Linked DNA regions of Homo sapiens. The protein of the gene in region 1 interacts with the protein of each later gene in a biochemical or structural test. Each region holds a gene or a part of one and is shown in the gene's direction. Other genes may lie near its edges.

Evidence for each region. The genes of interacting proteins can lie anywhere in the genome.
Region 2: of the proteins of MUL1 (region 1) and DNM1L, one has a biochemical effect on the other in vitro, tested with the Homo sapiens proteins (one study listed by BioGRID).
Region 3: the proteins of MUL1 (region 1) and UBE2D4 form a complex in vitro, tested with the Homo sapiens proteins (one study listed by BioGRID).

What each region holds. Positions count from the first base shown.
Region 1 is NC_000001.11:20,498,948-20,505,151, reverse strand, and holds the end of MUL1 (mitochondrial ubiquitin ligase activator of NFKB 1), read left to right. Parts: intron 1-1,842; coding exon 1,843-1,930; intron 1,931-2,962; coding exon 2,963-3,083; intron 3,084-3,732; coding exon 3,733-4,462; 3' UTR 4,463-5,704; downstream 5,705-6,204. UniProt on the Homo sapiens protein: Exhibits weak E3 ubiquitin-protein ligase activity. E3 ubiquitin ligases accept ubiquitin from an E2 ubiquitin-conjugating enzyme in the form of a thioester and then directly transfer the ubiquitin to targeted substrates.
Region 2 is NC_000012.12:32,731,289-32,738,327, forward strand, and holds part of DNM1L (dynamin-1-like protein), read left to right. Parts: intron 1-67; coding exon 68-223; intron 224-565; coding exon 566-655; intron 656-2,426; coding exon 2,427-2,519; intron 2,520-5,816; coding exon 5,817-5,873; intron 5,874-6,576; coding exon 6,577-6,654; intron 6,655-6,975; coding exon 6,976-7,008; intron 7,009-7,039. UniProt on the Homo sapiens protein: Functions in mitochondrial and peroxisomal division.
Region 3 is NC_000007.14:43,929,424-43,936,462, forward strand, and holds part of UBE2D4 (ubiquitin-conjugating enzyme E2 D4), read left to right. Parts: intron 1-7,039. UniProt on the Homo sapiens protein: Accepts ubiquitin from the E1 complex and catalyzes its covalent attachment to other proteins. In vitro able to promote polyubiquitination using all 7 ubiquitin Lys residues, but may prefer 'Lys-11' and 'Lys-48'-linked polyubiquitination.

The sequences.
Region 1 (6,204 bases):
TTTAACCCACATAAAAATCCTGTGAAATTGCATTTTCCCTGTCCTTTATGGTTTTGGAACCTGAGACTCAGATAAATGAAGTTGTCCCAAGTCACAGTGGATGCATTGGCGCTAGATTAAACTCCAGATCTTTCTGATCATATTCTCCCTCTTCCCCCTTTAAAATTCGAATTGGCCATCCTGTGGTGGATACTTTACTAGCTGTCTCACTTTGGGCAAATCACTTCACCTCTCTGAGCCTGTTTCCTTGTCTGTAATTGGTGATAATAATGTCTACCGTAAAGGGATGGTGTGGGCATTAAGTGGTTTATGCATTTAAAGTGCCTAGCATATTGCCTGGTACATAGTATATTTAAATGCTTACTTATTCATTAATTTATTAATCAAATAATGTATTAAATGCTTGCTGTGTGTCAGGCACAGTTCTCCGCACTAGGGGGATAGCAGTGAACAGGACAAACAGTGTCCAAGCCCTCCTAGAGTTTAACATTCTAGTGGAGGGAGACAGATAATGAGTAAATTGTTAGTTGTTATTGCTGTCATTTTGGTATCTTCACAGTGTAAGTGGCTAAGAAATTTTGATTGACCTTGCTCCTGTCACTTACTGTGTAGCAGTAGCTTAAACTCAGAGTGACCTTCATATACATCTTGTATCACATCACCTCTTTAGAGGTTACTGAATCTGGCATCCTTAAGAGTTGTTTTTGGGAATACCCTGAAAGCAGAGATGGTCCTTTATTCGTCCTGAATCTCTGACACCCAGCACAGTGCCTGGCACAAAGATGCTCAGGAAATGATTGTTGATTTTATTCCTTTTCTCTTATTTTTGAAACAGCAGTAACAGGATTGGTTTCCCAAGTGCAGTGGGTTGGACGCTCTGAGTTGGAAGGCAGAGGAGAACTAGGGATTGTTAGAGGAAGACAGCAGCAGAAAGAACCGTGCTCACTTAATTATGAGCATGAAAAAGGCAAAAAGTAGAACAGACTGGGTGCGGTGGCTCACACCCGTAATCCCAGCACTTTGGGAGGCCGAGGCAGGAGGATCGCTTGAGCTCAGGAGCTCAACACCAGCCTGGGCAACATTGGGAGACCCTGTCTCTGCAAAATAAAAAAATTAGACAGGTGTGGTGGTGCATGCCTATGGCCTCAGCAACTTGGGGGCCTGAGGTGGGAGGATCACTTGAGCCTGGGAGGTTGAGGCTGCAGTGAGCCATGATTGCACTACTGCACTCCAGTCTGGGTATAACAGTGAGACCCCATCTCAAAAAAAAAAAAAAATGTAGAATGGCATTTGGCACCAGTTAACAGTCTTCCTGTTGAAGCAAAGGCAACTCCCCCTGCTTTGTTTTTTTAATAACATACAATGCAGAGCATTGGTTCGTAAAGATGTGGTAATATTAATAATAACACCTACCAGTTCTCAAACCACTGCCATGTGCTAGGTGATAGGTTAGGTACTTTATACCTGAACCCTTTGGATCATAGCTCTGTGTTGTCAGGAAGAGATTGAATGATGTTCAGTCTGTGGTATGTAAATTGACTAGTACCTTTTATATTTTCACTAAAAAGTCTTAACATGAAAAGGAGTATAGGTTTTGGTTAACTGGAACAAGAATGTATGTGGCACCCCCATTCTGCAGTGATGGAAGAGGCAGAGGCATGGCTCCATTCCTGTTGATGTACACAGCTTTGAAATCTGATTCTCAGTAGTCACCTTCCTGTCCAATTTCCATATTCTCTTGACACGAAAAAAATAGAATCTTTTTCTTTTTTTTGCCTGTAAGTTTGATTGAGCATGTCAGTGTTCAATGGCCAATTAATTTAATTTTTTTTTTTTATTTAGGGAGCTAAAAAAGTTCATTTGGGTGAAGATTTAAAGAGTATTCTTTCAGAAGCTCCAGGAAAATGCGTGCCTTATGCTGTTATAGAAGGTATGTTTGCTTATTGGTCAATGGAAAACAACGTCTTTTTCCCAAAAGATTGATAAAGATCATCTTGGCTAATATGAAGAGCCTTTTGTGGTGTTGGGTCCATGGTCCAGAACATACTTTGGGGTCAGAAAGACATGGGTTATTGCTTTGTGATCGCTAAGATTACCAAACCTCCCTGAACCACTGTTGCCTGATCTCGAAAATAATACTTACCTTTATGGGGTTGTTATAAGACAAATTATGTGATCCATGCAAAGTGCTTAGGAGAGTGCTTCTAAAATGTGACTTATGGTGATCAGAATGTCATTGTTTTGATGAATTAGCAAAAGTCAACTGAAAACACTTAATTTTTAACATTTTTTAAATTAAAAAAAAAATTTTTTTTTGAGGCCAGGTGTGGTAGCTCATGCCTGTAATCCCAGCACTTTGGGAGGCTGAGATGGGCTGATCACTTGAGCTCAGGAGTTTGAGACCAGCCTGGTCGACATGATGAAACCCCGTCTCTACTAAAAATACAAAAATTAGCTGGATGTGGTGGCACATACCCGTAATCCCAGCTACTCGGGGGGCTGAGGCAGGAGAATTGCTTGAACCCGGGAGGCGGAGGTTGCAGTGAGCCAAGATTGCACCACTGTACTCCAGCCTGGGTAACAGAGTGAGACTCCGTCTCAAATAGAGTCTTGGCTCTGTCACCCAGGTAGCTGTAGTATGGTGGTGTGATCATAGCTCACTGCAGCCTCAAACTCCTGAGCTCAAGTGATTCTCCTGCCTCAGCCTCCCAAGTATCTGGGACTACAGGCACATGCCACCACACCCTGCTAACTTTTTAATTTTTTGTAAAGATGGAATCTCACTGTGTTAACCAGGCTGGTCTCAAACTCGTGGCCCCAAGTGATCCTTCTGACTTGGCTTCCCAAAGTGTTGGGATTATAGGTGTGACCTACTGTGCCAGACCAGAAAACACATTTTAAATTATCTGAAAGGAGAGGGCAGAAAACTTCTTCAGAAATAATAGAATTTGTGTCCACTTAGGAGCTGTGCGGTCTGTTAAAGAAACGCTTAACAGCCAGTTTGTGGAAAACTGCAAGGGGGTAATTCAGCGGCTGACACTTCAGGAGCACAAGATGGTGTGGAATCGAACCACCCACCTTTGGTATGTATCACTTCTCCACTGGCCAAAACCCTTGCAGTTGGTCTATTCAAATGCTGGGGTCCTGGGTGCTGTTGCCGTGACTTCAGCTTCTCCTGAGACAGGTTGAAGCCCAGTCTCTTAATGCAGGTCATATTCTTGTGTGTAGCCTGTGGGCCTCCTATGTCGGAATCACCGAGGCATCTTGTTGAAATGCAGATTTCTGAGCTCCCTTCAGTCCCTGAAGTGGATAAGTCAGTCCCTGGTGACTTATCCAACCAGAATTTCCAGGATCAGGGACCTGGAATCTGTTGTTAGGCACACTGAAGTTTGAGAACCACTGAATCAGTGATTTCAGTATTTCCTAAAATGCTTTTGTGCCATCATATGAAATATCAGTTTTCCAACTGGTCCTAGTGAGTTTTGTTTTAGATGTTTGTTTTACAGTGGAAAGGGAAATGATAGTCTGTGGCGGTTATTTGTTGCCCACTGATATCGCCCCAGGACCTACAAATGGAGCCTCCTTGTTAGGAGGCAACTGGAGATAGTGATCTTACTGTCTTCTTCCAGTTACTTCAGACCATATGCTGTCCTCCACATTTAGTTGATCTCCAGTTCTGCCTGGGTGTTTGCTGTTTGCTACCCTGTATCTTTAGTTCTCTTATTCTTCTAGGAATGATTGCTCAAAGATCATTCATCAGAGGACCAACACAGTGCCCTTTGACCTGGTGCCCCACGAGGATGGCGTGGATGTGGCTGTGCGAGTGCTGAAGCCCCTGGACTCAGTGGATCTGGGTCTAGAGACTGTGTATGAGAAGTTCCACCCCTCGATTCAGTCCTTCACCGATGTCATCGGCCACTACATCAGCGGTGAGCGGCCCAAAGGCATCCAAGAGACCGAGGAGATGCTGAAGGTGGGGGCCACCCTCACAGGGGTTGGCGAACTGGTCCTGGACAACAACTCTGTCCGCCTGCAGCCGCCCAAACAAGGCATGCAGTACTATCTAAGCAGCCAGGACTTCGACAGCCTGCTGCAGAGGCAGGAGTCGAGCGTCAGGCTCTGGAAGGTGCTGGCGCTGGTTTTTGGCTTTGCCACATGTGCCACCCTCTTCTTCATTCTCCGGAAGCAGTATCTGCAGCGGCAGGAGCGCCTGCGCCTCAAGCAGATGCAGGAGGAGTTCCAGGAGCATGAGGCCCAGCTGCTGAGCCGAGCCAAGCCTGAGGACAGGGAGAGTCTGAAGAGCGCCTGTGTAGTGTGTCTGAGCAGCTTCAAGTCCTGCGTCTTTCTGGAGTGTGGGCACGTTTGTTCCTGCACCGAGTGCTACCGCGCCTTGCCAGAGCCCAAGAAGTGCCCTATCTGCAGACAGGCGATCACCCGGGTGATACCCCTGTACAACAGCTAATAGTTTGGAAGCCGCACAGCTTGACCTGGAAGCACCCCTGCCCCCTTTTCAGGGATTTTTATCTCGAGGCCTTTGGAGGAGCAGTGGTGGGGGTAGCTGTCACCTCCAGGTATGATTGAGGGAGGAATTGGGTAGAAACTCTCCAGACCCATGCCTCCAATGGCAGGATGCTGCCTTTCCCACCTGAGAGGGGACCCTGTCCATGTGCAGCCTCATCAGAGCCTCACCCTGGGAGGATGCCGTGGCGTCTCCTCCCAGGAGCCAGATCAGTGCGAGTGTGACTGAAAATGCCTCATCACTTAAGCACCAAAGCCAGTGATCAGCAGCTCTTCTGTTCCTGTGTCTTCTGTTTTTTTCTGGTGAATCGTTGCTTGCTGTGGACTTGGTGGAGGACTCAGAGGGGAGGAAAGGCTGGGCCCCGAGTACAACGGATGCCTTGGGTGCTGCCTCCGAAGAGACTCTGCCGCAGCTTTTCTTCTTTTTCCTCATGCCCCGGGAAACAGTCTTTCTTCAGAATTGTCAGGCTGGGCAGGTCAACTTGTGTTCCTTTCCCCTCACCTGCTTGCCTCCTTAACGCCTGCACGTGTGTGTAGAGGACAAAAGAAAGTGAAGTCAGCACATCCGCTTCTGCCCAGATGGTCGGGGCCCCGGGCAACAGATTGAAGAGAGATCATGTGAAGGGCAGTTGGTCAGGCAGGCCTCCTGGTTTCGCCACTGGCCCTGATTTGAACTCCTGCCACTTGGGAGAGCTCGGGGTGGTCCCTGGTTTTCCCTCCTGGAGAATGAGGCGCAGAGGCCTCGCCTCCTGAAGGACGCAGTGTGGATGCCACTGGCCTAGTGTCCTGGCCTCACAGCTTCCTTGCAAGGCTGTCACAAGGAAAAGCAGCCGGCTGGCACCCTGAGCATATGCCCTCTTGGGGCTCCCTCATCCAGCCCGTCGCAGCTTTGACATCTTGGTGTACTCATGTCGCTTCTCCTTGTGTTACCCCCTCCCAGTATTACCATTTGCCCCTCACCTGCCCTTGGTGAGCCTTTTAGTGCAAGACAGATGGGGCTGTTTTCCCCCACCTCTGAGTAGTTGGAGGTCACATACACAGCTCTTTTTTTATTGCCCTTTTCTGCCTCTGAATGTTCATCTCTCGTCCTCCTTTGTGCAGGCGAGGAAGGGGTGCCCTCAGGGGCCGACACTAGTATGATGCAGTGTCCAGTGTGAACAGCAGAAATTAAACATGTTGCAACCAAGTGCTAGCCTGTTGCTTTGTTAACAGGAGTTAAATGGCTAAGCCTAAGTGTCCCCAGGATGGGATTGAATCCCTGCCACAATGGAGTGAAAGGTGGGGGAGTTTGAGGCCTCTGTGTTCTTTTCCTCGGCTATAGTGGTTTGGGGCTCCCCCAGATGGGGTGATGCAGAGGCCGGCCGGGATGCCTGCCCCCTGGGGAGGAATCTGGACAGCCCACCCGTGGGTCATATCTGGCCTTGCTGACCATCTTTGAAGTCTGTCCCGACAGCCTACAAATCAGGGCAGTGAGATTTCACCTGCTGGGAGAATGGGATGGGGATGGGGTGCTGGGGGACAGCAGAGAGGAAATGAGCATTTAGCAATACTGTGTATGAGGTACTGTGCCGTGTGCTGTTTCAAACTCATTTCAGAGTGAGTTCATCCTCACAAAACCCCTGCAGGCCGAGTCCCGGTGTCTGTGCTGTACAGGTGAGGAAGTAGGCCCAGAGGGTACATTCACTG
Region 2 (7,039 bases), on another chromosome or scaffold:
CTTTCTTAACCCTTGGGAAGAACTGAAATTACATATATAATAAGAGTTCTAAGTTTTATTTTCTCAGGGTCCTCGTCCTGCTTTATTTGTGCCTGAGGTTTCATTTGAGTTACTGGTGAAGCGGCAAATCAAACGTCTAGAAGAGCCCAGCCTCCGCTGTGTGGAACTGGTTCATGAGGAAATGCAAAGGATCATTCAGCACTGTAGCAATTACAGTACACAGGTAACGGAGAGAAATGTAACAGGTTTCACATGAACTAGAAAAGGACATGAAGTGGTGGTTTCACTGGGTGGAAGGAAATGTATAAGATGGGATACAAGGTAAAATCTGTAGTTCCCTTACCTGAAAGTGATTTGAAATAGGATTCTTAAATGTAGTCTCCAAATTGAATTCAGTATTTCTGTGATCATTAAGTAAAAGAAAATGACTGTTAGCCTGGCATGGTGGCTTCTACATGTAGTCTCAGCTACTTGGGAGGCTAAGGTGGGAGGATGGCTTAGTGAGACTATGACTTAAAAAAAAAACAAAAAACAAACACGTTTTTCTTTCATCTACCATTTGTAGGAATTGTTACGATTTCCTAAACTTCATGATGCCATAGTTGAAGTGGTGACTTGTCTTCTTCGTAAAAGGTTGCCTGTTACAAATGAAATGGTGAGCTACTATAGCATAGATCATTGTAATTACTATTAGTAAAAGTTTAAATTTTTGCTTGGCTGCTTTTTAATAAGCATTATATGGTTACTTTAGAGTGTAGGCATAATGTTTTCCAGTGTATTGGGAGGAAAAACAAGTTGAGTTTCAGTCTCATTTTAAAGGAAAATTTTTAATAATTCTGGTATAAAGTGCATTTTTTCTTCATATTTTAATCATTGTTAGCCTGCAGGCATGGGTTTTCTTGAAAATAGATTTATGATTGAGGGGTGTGAATAGCTTTGCTGTATTATTTAGTACCACTGATCTTAAGAGAAAATTAGTTCCATCTTTAGCCTCAGTAAACTGAGCATTTATAGCACACTGTTACTTTGAGGTACATCGGAGTAATCTGGCCACTTCTGCAGTTTGCTTGTTATGACCTAATAACTATAATATCGTAGTTGCTTGCTACTATTCTGTGGGTTGCTGCTATCCACACAAATAAAAATGCTGAAATTGGCAGAAATATGGGATAAGCATTTAAAATTGCCCTCATGCCTCTAATTGTTGGCTGGGTTTTTTGTTTTTTGTTTTCTTTCTGATCACTAAAAGTGCATTTGGGTCCTTGGCTCAGGATGGTGAACCCCGTGGAGGTTTACTAAGAGTACAAAACCATCCTTGGAATGTAAGTGCTGCTGCTTGGTTGTTTCTTTAGCAAGGATAGCCCTCAGATTCTGATGTCTAAGACTGAATTTAGCCCAGAATCATTGGACCTTCATTTTAATAGACCCTTTTTACCCAGTTCTGGACTGATAAGTGCTGTTCTGATACCTGAGATTTGTTAGGACAGCACATAATAAAGGGCTCAAGTTTATTCTCTCTGTAAGACTCAGTGGTGTGGTGGCTCACACCTGTAATCCCAACACTTTGGGAAGTCGAGGCGGGTGGATCACTTGAGGTCGGAAGTTTGAGACCAGCCTGACCAACATGGAGAAACCCCCTCTCTACTAAAAATACAAAATTAGCCGGGCGTGGTGGTGCATGCCTGTAATCCCAGCTACTGGGGAGGCTGAGGCAGGCAGGAGAATCACTTGAACCTGGGAGGTGGAGGCTGCGGTGAGCCGAGATCGCGCCATTGCACTCCAGCCTGGGCAATGAGAGCGAAACTCCGTCTCAAACAAACAAACAAACAAAAAGACTTAGCAATTCTGTAGAGGGCTGGATAAATTAATTTTAACTTTTCTTTTTTATTTTCCTCTTAGGATTTTGAACTACATATAATATTTTAACTAGGTGCTTTATAGTTAAGGCTAATCAGTCACTACCTCAGGTCCTTAGATGTATCCTTTACCCAAATAAGTTAACATCTTTAACTTATGCCTTGTTACGAACTTATTTTCTTATTGTTGAAAATGAACTAAAAAAGTGACAGGGAATAGTGGATGATCTGAAGTTTTAATAGCAAAGTTGCATAAAGTGTTGGAATTTAGATTTGCATTAGGTAGATGACTATTTTTCCCTAAGAGTAAAATACTTGTAGTTACTTTAATGTTATTTTTCCCTCTTAGAAATGCAGTTTTAGATGCTGAAATGTAAATAATTTTAAAGCTAGAGTAAATTATTGTTTGGCATAAGATTTATCAGTTGGAATATAATTATCAAGTAATTTAGGCATAAGTTTCCTGTACTTTTTCGGTATTGTCTGTTTCATAAGTTTTATATATAAATTTCTCAAAGTAAAATATGGTTGATGTATTTTTGTATATCGCCTAACTTACTTTTTTTCTAGGTCCATAACTTAGTGGCAATTGAACTGGCTTATATCAACACAAAACATCCAGACTTTGCTGATGCTTGTGGGCTAATGAACAATAATATAGAGGTAAATATAATTCTTAAATGCTTTTTCACAGGTAGAAAAATCTGTTGTAACTCAGTTATATCAAACTTATTTAGCATGGAGTAACTATAAAATAGACATGTGCCACATTAGTGCCTGCTGCATGTCAGGAAATATGCTGAGGGGATTACATTGTTTTCTTAATTCTCAAAACCACCTGCAGGCATTATTACTTTCTGCTTATGAAATTGAAATTCAGAAAGAATCTGAAAATTCATTGATTTGGTGTGACTGGCTCTATTTTGGTAACTTATAGTTTATACAGGGGAAGTGTGTACAACAAAGTATTTAAAATTCTTTTCATTTGGCTTTGAAAGCTGTGAAGGAAACACTCAAGAATTAACCAACTTAGCATAAATTTGGAAAAGCAGAGTGCTTTTTTCACCACTACTGGGGTGGCTGCATTTCATGGATCTTTTCTTTCCTTTTGATTTTAATGTAACAAATTGAATAAGATCTCAGATGGAGCCAAGGCTGGTGGACAGAGCAATTTATCCAGAAGCCATTTTTTTTCTCTGCCGCTTTTCTCCAAAAATAGTACATTTTTCTGCTACTCCCTAATTCAGTAAGACCTGAGTCCCCTGCTATACCAAATTTCCTCTTCTGCATATCCATGGTGAGAAAATTGTAAACATGCAATTCAGAAGCTGGAAGGGATCCTGTGTTATTGACTTCAACTCTGGTTAAAACAGATGGGGTGGCCAGACGTGGTGGCTCATGCCTGTAATCCCAGCAATTTGGGAGGTCAAGGCAGGTGGATCACCTGACATCAGGAGTTTGAGACCAGCCTGGCCAACATGGTGAAACCCCGTCTCTACTAAAAATACAAAAAATTAGCCGGGCTTGGTGGCAGGTGCCTGTAATCTGAGCTACTAGGGAGGCTGAGGCAGGAGAATCAACTTGAACCCAGGAGGTGGAGGTTGCAGTGAGCTGAGATCGCGCCATTGCACTCCAGCCTGGGCAACAAGGGCGAAACTCCATCTTAAAAAAAAACTGGGGAGCTTGAGGCTTACAGATAGCAGTTATTCCTTTGGTGCTTATTTTGCAGGGCACTATTATAGGAAGCAAGCACCTTCTTAACACAGGTATAGGGAACTAATTTTTGGTTACATAGCTGGGGGTGATTCCTGTTATCAGAAAAAATTCCAAAATGCATACATGAGTAGGCACTTCAAAACACTCAGAAAGTAGGCCAGATCACAGTTATGTTAAAAATTAGCATGTAGACACTTAAAGGATTTAGTTTTTTTTACATTGAAACTAACATCATGAAAAACTTGTGTTTGCGGTAGTTCTGTTACACTGACAAGGTCATATGTGATATGATTTCAGATTAGTATTTTTCTACAAATGAATAGGTTTCTGGTTTTAATGACTGTGCCAGAGAACTTTATGTGGATATTTTCATTTAATCTTTACCATACCCTGAGGGCAGATCATGTCATTAACAGATTAGGACACTAGGGCTTCAAAATAGTTGGTAAGCTGTCCAGTTAGCAAAGCAGGTACTCCACATCTGCTGGGGTCCAGGAGCAGCTCAGATCATAACTGGTTAGTAACAGACTAGGGTGAGAATTCTAGATACCGTGGCCTTTTGCTTTGTATCCCTGTTCAAAATGTACATTTTATCATGCTAATTTTTTATTTTGAAGATTGTTAATATCTATACTTTTATTATCTGTTATTTTTTATTACTGAATACCCGCCCATGAAAAAATAAAATTGGGTCAAATTTCTGTCAAAAAAAATTATTACACATGAAACATCACTGTGGGCTGTGTGCGGTGGCTCATGCCTGTAATCCCAGCACTTTGGTAGGCCGAGGCAGGCTGATCACCTGAGGTCAGGAGTTCAAGTCTAGCCTGGCCAACGTGGCAAAACTGTCTCTACTAAAAATAGAAAAATTAGCCGGGGGTGGTGGATGCCTGTAATCCCAGCTAGTAGGGAGGCTGCAGCAGGGAGAATCCATTGAATCCAGGAGGCGGAGGTTGCAGTGAGCCAAGATCACACCACTGCACTCCAGCCTGGGCGACAGAGCGAGACTCCATTTCAACAAAAAACAAAAACAAAATCATTGTGAGGCTTTAACTTATATTTTTTTGCAAGTTGGACTGTGTTCATGAAATACTTCCTACTTAGGAGCAATTGTGACTTTAACCTAAATAGTTTCTACTTTATCTGATGCTGCCTGTGAGAGATCCATCATTAATTAACATCTACAGATTTCTATATCTTCATAATCTTTTTTTTTTTTTTTTTTTTTTAAGACAGAGTCTCACTCTGTCGCCCAGGCTGGAGTGCAGTGGCATGAGCTCTGCTCACTGCAACCTCTGCCTCCTGGGTTCAAGCAGTTCTCCTGCCGCAGCCTCCTGAGTAGCTGGGATTACAGGTGTGCGGCACCATGCCTGGCTAATTTTTATATTTTTAGTAGAGACAGGGTTTCACCATTTTGGCCAGGCTGGTCTTGAACTGCCCTCAAGTGATCTGCCCACCTTGGCCTCCCAAAGTGCTGGGATTACAAGCATGAGGCACTGTGCCCGGCCAATATTTTCATAATCTTTTACCTATCTTGGTGCTTGGATATAGCAGATGCTCGGGACATTCTAATTTGAATTTGTCAGTTTCTTTAGCTTTGTACAAGTTACTTTGATAATATTAGCAAATTAGAACAGTAGGCAATTGATCAGTGTGTTAAATTAGCCAGGTTACAGAAAGGACTAGCAGTTGTCAACACTATTTCCTGGAGGAAGAAATGGAACATTTTTATAGGATAACCTCAACCACAGATACTTCTTCAAGATACGGTTTTATGAGGGGAGTTGTTTGAGTTTAACACAAAGGTGTTCAGGTTAGAGTGACTTTTAAAGGCTTTGCGGAGTTTTCTGTGATCTCTGGACTTCAAATTCCACATGGTTATGTTGAAGGCTTACCACGTTCCACATTTATGTGAGGACAGTTTACATCACTGTTTCTTAGTGGGAAAGGGGGAGAAGATGGCAGTCTGTTGCCCCTCATTTGAGAATCCCCAGTACAGGGAGCCACTGTTACTGACAGTGTATTGTATCCTTCAGGTGTGTGGGCAGAAAAAAAAAAGATTAAGAAGCTTTGGGTTAAATGATTTCTTATTTATTTTAAAATATGATAATTATGGCATGAGTCCCAACAGTGAGAGGATGTATCTGTAAGTTACTCCACACTTTTCAATTAACATGAACATTTTTTAGTAGGCATATATCTCAATACTTGGATAATCACTTTTGTTTTGCTTGTGTTTCTTAGGAACAAAGGAGAAACAGGCTAGCCAGAGAATTACCTTCAGCTGTATCACGAGACAAGGTAAAAAAATGTTTTTAATGCATATTCCCAATACCTAAAGATAGATTGATGAGCTCAGAATATTACTCAGTCCTAGGAGTAATTTTTTCTTCTTTTCCTCCCTTTAACACTCCATTGGAACTAACTGAGTAAAGGCATACAAGTTTAAAATGGGTTTTGAGTGATTTAAAGATAATAGTATTTTGAATTCACTGACATAAATGCTTAAAAGTAGATTTAAGCATTTATTTAAGCATTTAAGCATCAAGCTTTTTAAAAAAATTCAGTCAGTGACTTTATCAACTTTGCACATAGCTGAAATGACTCAAGATTTTATTATAATAAGAGGGTTTCTTGGAAAAAACAGTATGCACAGAACAGAGGTTTTAATTACTAGTAATAATTAAAATAGTTGTAATACTAAAGTGTGTATAAAAATCTTTTACCTTGAATTCTTTGCCAGAAAAGAATCTTATTAAATACCAAAAATAAAAATGAAGCTTTTGGATTTGGATTTTTCTTATGTATTCATCTGAAGGAAACTTTTAACAAAGGTGACAATGGTGAAGGAAATAAGGCAGAATAAACAATCTCCCATGATTATTTTCATCTTTCATGTTATTTTACGATTTCATTACAGAAGGGAAAAATTCATTTATAGAATGTTCCTGAATGCATTTTTGCATCCTTGATTTTTTTTCCCCCCTGGATTTTTTGCCTTTAGTCTTCTAAAGTTCCAAGTGCTTTGGCACCTGCCTCCCAGGAGCCCTCCCCCGCTGCTTCTGCTGAGGCTGATGGCAAGGTCTGTTCTGATTCTTAATCTAAGCCTGCATGCCTTGTTCTCTGGTACAACATAATCTTCTGGAAACAATACACTGAATAGAAGAATATTAATATGGGATACTGTGCTAAGGTCAGATCACTTTAGTCTAATATATATTTTAAAATTATATAACAATGCAATGCATAGTTTATATTGTTGACATGCTTTTGCTTGCAATATAGAAGATGCACACAGAAAAAGTAATTTAAAGAGGAAATTATCCTGCACTTTTTGAATTTCAACCCATTGGTATTTAAATTTTGCTTGTTAAATTGCATGTTTTAACATATCTTTTAACAGTTAATTCAGGACAGCAGAAGAGAAACTAAAAATGTGAGTCTCTTGCTTCAGAATGGAAATGTTG
Region 3 (7,039 bases), on another chromosome or scaffold:
TTAAAAAAAAAAAAAAAAAGTAAATAAAAATTAAAAAAAAAATTAGCCAAGCGTGGTGACACACACCTGTAATCCCAGCTACTTAGGAGGCTAAGGTGGGAGAATCACCTGAGCCCAGGAGGTCAAGGCTGCAGTGAGCCTCACCACTGCACTCCAGCCTGGGCAACCAGAGTGAGACCCTGTCTTAAAACAAAAGCAAAACAAGAATCAAGGTCAGGGCTGGCTTCATGTGTGTGTGACGCATTCACTCTCACAGGGCCCCAGGCTTGGATGGGCTCTGCCTTTGGTTTTATGCTCTGCTGTCACTATCAGGAAATTCTTAATAATTATCGAACTTGAGACCCTACATTTTCACATTCACAAGGCCCTGCAAATTCTGTAGCAATTCCTGGGGAAAAACAACAGAATTGTAGGAAATACAACTTTAAAAGTGTGTCAAGCCTGCCGTGGTGAGATGGCACCATTGGGCCACCACTAGTTAGGATGTCTTGGCTGCAAGTGACAGAGGCTGAGCTGCCCTTGTGCATGGAATTGGAGGTCCTGTGGCAGGACTTTGGGAGCAACTCAGTCCCCCTCTCCTGGTCTGTTCCTGTGTCACTCTGGGCTGAATGGCTCTGGAACACACAGCCTGCTGGACATCTGGGAGTAATAGAGACAACTGCTTCCAGAAGAACTGATAAGAATATTCTCAGAAAGCCCAGCAGATCTTTTTTTCCCTTTGCCTTGTTATGAATTATGTCTCATGCTCATTCCGAAACCAATGAGTGGCAAGGAGTCTGGTTACTCTTAGACCTGGAGCTGACAGTGAGTTGACCAGAACTGAACAGCAGTCCTTCAGAAAGGAGGAAGGCGGATGGGTGCTGAGCAGGTAGCCAGCAGTATGCAAGCCTGAGCCAGGTGTGTGGTGTCTACTAGCTGCCCCCTTAGTTTCCAATCCACAGCCCTTTCTAACCAACTTCAACCCTTTAAAAAAATGTTTTCAAATGAATGTTTCAAATTGAATATTTTTAGATGCACTTTTTAGTTAGTTAGTTAGTTAGTTAGTTTTTTGAGACAGGGTCTTGCTCTGTTACCTAGGCTGTAGTGCAGTGGCTCAATCATAGCTCACTGCAGCCTTGACCTCCTGGGCTCAAGCAGTCCTCCCACTTAGCTTTCCCAGTAGCTGGGATTACAGGTGCCTGCCACCACATCTGGCTAATTTAAAATTTTTTGTAGAGAGTGGATTTCACCATGTTGCCCAGGCTGGTCTCAAACTCCTAGGCTCATGTAATCCTCCCACCTCAGCCTCCTAAAGTGCTGGGATTACAGGTGTGAGCCACTGTTCTCAACCAGGACAGGGTTATATGTGGCAGCATTTCAATTTTTTAATGGTTTTTTTTCTCTTTGATACGTGTATTAGTCCATTCTTGCATTGCTGTTAGGAAATACCTGGCCAGGCACAGTGGCTCATGTCTGTAATCCCAGCATTTTGGGAGGCTGAGGCGGGCAGATCATCTGAGGTTAGGTCCTGGTCAACATGGTGAAACCCCATATCCACTAAAAATACAAAAATTAGCTGGGTATGGTGGCATGTGCCTGTAATCCTGGCTACTTGGAAGGCTGAGGCAGGAGACTTGCTTGAACCCGGGAGGCAGAGGTTTCAGTGAGCGATCATGCCACTACACTCCAGCCTGGGTGATAGAGTGAGACTCTGTCTCAAAAAAAAAAAAAAGAAAAAAAGAAATACCTGAAGGCTGGATGAGGTGGCCCATGCCTGTAATCCTAGCACTTTGGGAGGCTAAGGCAGGTGGATGGCCTGAGCTCAGGAGTTCAAGACCAGCCTGGGCAACATGGCAAAACCCCAGCTCTACCAAAAATAGAAAAAATTAGACAGGCATGGTTCTTGGCATGTGCCTATGGTCCCAGCTACTCAGGTGGCTGAGGTGGAAGGATCGCTTGAGCCAGACAGAGGTGGAGGTTGCAGTGAGCCGATATCGTGCCACTGCACTCCAACCTGGGTGACAGAGTAAGACCGTATCTTAAAAAACAAACAAACAAACAAAACAGAAAACCTGAGATGAGGTAATTTAGGAAGAAGAGTTTTAATTGGCTCACAGTTCCGCAGGCTGTACAGGAAGTATGGCACTAGTGTCTGCTCTGCTTCAGAGGAGGGGAAACTCACACTCACTGTGGAAGGCAAACCGGGGTGGGGGGGCGGGGGGGGTGGCAGAGCAGGCATGTCACATGGCCAGAACAGGAGCAAGAGAGAGAACAAGGGGAGGTGCTCCACACTTTTATTTATTTATTTATTTATTTTTGAGACAGGGTCTCTGTCACCCAGGCTGGAGTGCAGTGGTGCAATTTCTGATCACTGCAGCCTCCGTCTCTCTGGTTCAACTGATTCTCCTGTGTCAGCCTCTGGAGTAGTGTGTGCCACCATGCCTGGCTACTTTTTTTTGTATTTTTAGTAGAGACGGGGTTTTGCCATGTTGCCAGGCTGGTCTTGAACTCCTGAGCTCAAGCGATCCACCCACTTGGGCCTCCCAAAGTGCTGGGATTACAGGCATGAGCCACTGTGCCTGGCCATGACACACTTTTTTTTTTGAGACAGAGTCTTGCTCTGTCGCCCAGGCTGGAGTGCAGTGGCACGATCTCGGCTCACTGCAAGCTCTGCCTCCCAGGTTCACACCATTCTCCAGCCTCAACCTCCCTGAGTAGCTGGGACTACAGGCGCCTGCCACCACACCCAGCTAATTTTTTGTATTTTTAGGAGAGACGGGGTTTCACCATGTTAGCCAGGATGGTCTCGATCTCCTGACCTCGTGATCCACCCGCCTTGGCCTCCCAAAGTGCTGGGATTACAGGCACAAAGTGAGCCACTGTGCCTGGCCCATGACATACTTTGAAACAACCAGATCTTGTGAGAAGAGGATAATACCAAGTGGATTGTACTAAACCAATCACTTCCCACCAGGCCCCACCCTCAACGTTGGAGATTACAATTTGACAAGAGTTTTGTGTGGGAACACAGATCCAAACTATATCAATACATATTTAACACATATATTTTGCAATACATGTACTTTAAAGAAAATTTGGAAAATACCTGGCTAAGCAGGGTGGCTCACGCCTGTAATCTCAGCACTTTGGGAGGCCGAGGTGGATGGATCACTTGAGGCCAGGAGTTTGAGACAAGCCTGGCCAACATGGCAAAACCCTGTCTCTCCTAAATATACAAACATTAGCCGGGCATATTAGTAGGTGCCTGTAATCTCAGCTACTCGGGAGGCTGAGGCATAAGAATCGCTTGAACCCAGGAGATGGAGGTTGCAGTGAACCAAGATGGCGCCACGGCACTCCAACCTGGGTGACAGAGCGAAATCCTGTCTCAAAAAAATAATAAAAATAAAATACATAATAAAAAAATAATAATAGAAAAAAAGAAAATTAAAGAAAATTTGGAAAATGCCCCCAAAATTCAGTTTTTAAAAAACTCATCTCTAGTCATCTAAAGTGGGGTCACTTTTTCTTGCTGGAATGTGTGCCATCCAGTTCCCCTCCTGGGGGCAACAAATGTTAAAGTATATATATATATATATATATATATATATACACACACATATATATACACATATGTATGTGTGTATATATATAACATATATACACACATATATATACACATATGTATGTGTGTATATATATAACATATATACTTATATGTGTGTATATACATATACGTACATATATATGTGTGGGTGTATATATATATATATTCTACCTATTCATGTAATTGTAGTTAACATTTTTGTGGATTTCTTTTCAGTGCCTTTGATGTGTATGTGTTTCAGATTGTTGTCATGTAGTGCATCAAATTTTATACTCTGCTTTTTTCTTGCCCTTTTCCTCTAATGTTGTATCATGACATTTTCTCCTGTTATTCTGTAGTCTTTAAAAACTAATTTTCAGTGGCTGCATAATACTTGGTTTAGTTTCTCAAAAAAAAGTTTAGTTAACTTCTGATTATAAAGGTAGTAATTGTTCTTTAAAGAAACTTGGGGCTGGGCGTGGTGGCTCAGGCCTGTAATCCCAGCACTTTGGGAGGCTGAGGCAGGAGGATCGCTTGAGGTCAGGAGTTTGAGACCAGCCTGGCCAACATGGTGAAACTCATCTCTACTACAAATACAAAAATTAGCTGGGCATGGTGGTGCGTTCCTGTAATCAGTCCCAGCTACTCTGGAGGGTGAGACACCAGAATTGCTTGAACCCAGTAGGCAGAGGTTGCAGTGAGCCGAGATGGTGCCAGTGTACTCCAGTCTGGGCAACACAGTGAGACCCTGTCTCTAAAAATAAAAATAAAAAATAAAGAGAACTTGGAAATAAGATAATACCATATTCATCTACTTCAAGATGAATATTTTTTCAAATGTTCACGTCTCTGAAATTGGGATGCTTCTTACAATAGCTGTCAGCCAGGTTACCTTCACTTAGATGTCACTATCTGTATGAGTAAACCATCATGGCAGTTCATTATGAGGTAAGTGCATTGCTGGTACTATATTTGTTGAGTTTAATTGTTTTAAAAATATTTTCAAAAAGATAGTGTGATTTAGCACTGAAAAGAAAAGCTTTTGTGAACACAGGCACAGAAACAGGACAACGACGAGTAAATTTCATAATAAGGGAGCAAATATTTGTTGTTGGAGGAAGGACTGGAATTTCCTAATTCCATGTCAAGCAACCAAATTCTTCATAGCCACAGAAAGGAAGGTACCACCTACCCTCAAGTTGGTGAGACTGGGTCATTTTTTTTTTTCTGGAATACGTGCAAATAGATTGTGTATCATGGGCCTTTGCAGAATAAGTATTCATGGCTTGAAAGAAAACTCCAGGAAGAGTAGTAGAGGACTCTAAGAATTGCCACATTACCATTGTTTTGGAAGACACAGAGGATGATATTGTGTAGACATCAATGACTCAGTGTTGGGCTCTGAATGGGAAGAAACTTTAGGAATACCTGAACAAACCAGTTTATTTATTTCACTTGTTTTTCCTTTTTTTTTTTTTTGTATTCATGAATGATACTTAACAAGAAACACACAAAGCTATGTTTAAGCCTAAAATAATTCTTTTGATAAAAGTAATTTTAATTTTTTAATTTTTTGAAACAGAATCTCACTCTGTCACACAGGCGCAGTCTTGGCTCACTGCAACCTCCACCTCCCGGGCTAAAGCAATTCTTTTTTTTTTTTCCCACAAGAAGAAAAAGTACATTTTATTTAATGACCAAGTACACACACACATTCACACACATGCATATGTACATATAACTAAAAAAAATATTTTTTCTCATCACATGGGATGCATTGTGAAATATTCTACATTCTTTCATTTAAAGAAAAATGCTGGTCACGTTTTAGTAAAAATCTTTCACAAATCACTAATATGTTACAATGCATAACTGCTCTAGAGCATTAACAATGCTAAGCTATAATTTTAGGGAAATATATAGTGGTGCTCCTTCTTAGAATTAGCCCATGTGGTATTTTAGGTACTCAACTCAGGGAAAAAAAAAATGTAACATAGCCTTGTTACCATGTATTCAGCCTGGACATGGTACATGCTTTCAGTGAGCTTAAATCACCTATCTTCCTAGGCCCAAGATCTGAGGGAATGACTTCCAACTACGTAACAGGACCCTTTGTCTGTATTATACATTTTATATGTCTTTTTATGTACATTGTTTCACTTGTTCCTCACAACAACCCTGTGAGGTAGGGAGGGGAAAATATCAGTTACGCTTTATAGATAATGAAGTTAAGGTTCAGAGAGGTTAAGTGACTTTCTCAGTTACCTAGTAAAAGGCAGAGACAGAATAAGAACTATTAACTTTTAGGTTGGGGGCCCTTTTCTCTAAACCACATAGCTTTGGAGAGTATATTCTAACCCAAAATATTTTTACTGCTTCATCCTCATTTTCTTATTATTAATTCAACTTTTTACAGAATACCATAAAAGACCTAATTCTAAATTCATCATGCTAAATTTATGCTTCTCTGTAAACTTATGGCCACAGAATACATATTTTTTTTTTTGGAAAGCACTGTCACTTTGGCCCTAAAGGAACATAAGCAATATAAAGGGCCCCAGAGGCCAAGGAAATTGAAGAGAAGTCAGAAGAAGGGATATAAAATGGAATGTGTTAACGGATTTTAGTCCCTTTAAGTTTGCACTTTTGTGAGAGGGTTCAATGGAGAGCTTTAATGCAGATGAGACTTGAAGCTTTTGAAGAAGATCTAAGTCTTGATGAGGTTATTCAAACTCAGATCTTGAACGCATAATGATGATAGGCCATGGTCTTCAAAAACGTGGTACTTGATGCTCTCCCACAGTGCCAGGACTGGAATGTCACAATACATATAGATTCATGTTTTTGTCCATTAATGGTCTGTGGGTTTCTTTAAATGAAGCCCATTTTAGAGTCCATAGATATCAGTGTTCTGCGAAACTGTTGGGGATTGGAGGCTCCCAAAAGACCCCAGATGCTCTGCCCTGCCCATGGCATCACCCTCTAAAGCGATTCTTGTGCCTCAGCCTCCTGAGTAGCTGGTTATAGGCACATGCCACCAAGCCCAGCTAAGTTTTGTATTTGTAGTAGAGACAGGGTTTCACCATGTTGGCCAAACTGGTCTCGAACTCCTGACATCAGGCGATCTGCCTACCTCGGCCTCCCAAAGTGCTGGGATTACCGGCATGAACCACTGTACACAGCCTGATAAAAGTAATTTTTAAATACAATTAAAGTTTATGTGCAAAGAAAGCATTTGTGTTAGTTTATTTGCCAGCATGTTTTTTTTTTCCTAATTGTATGTAAAGTAAAATTGTGTCTTATAAAGGATGGAGTCTTGGAGTTGACGAAACACCGTAAAGGAATAACTGAGTGTGTACCATGGTTTGCTTAACTCTTCTCTACTACTATTCAATACTTTAACTTACTTTCTCTTTTTCGGAACTTCTCACTTTTATCATTGTTACTTGTAATAGTAATTACTATATAAACTTA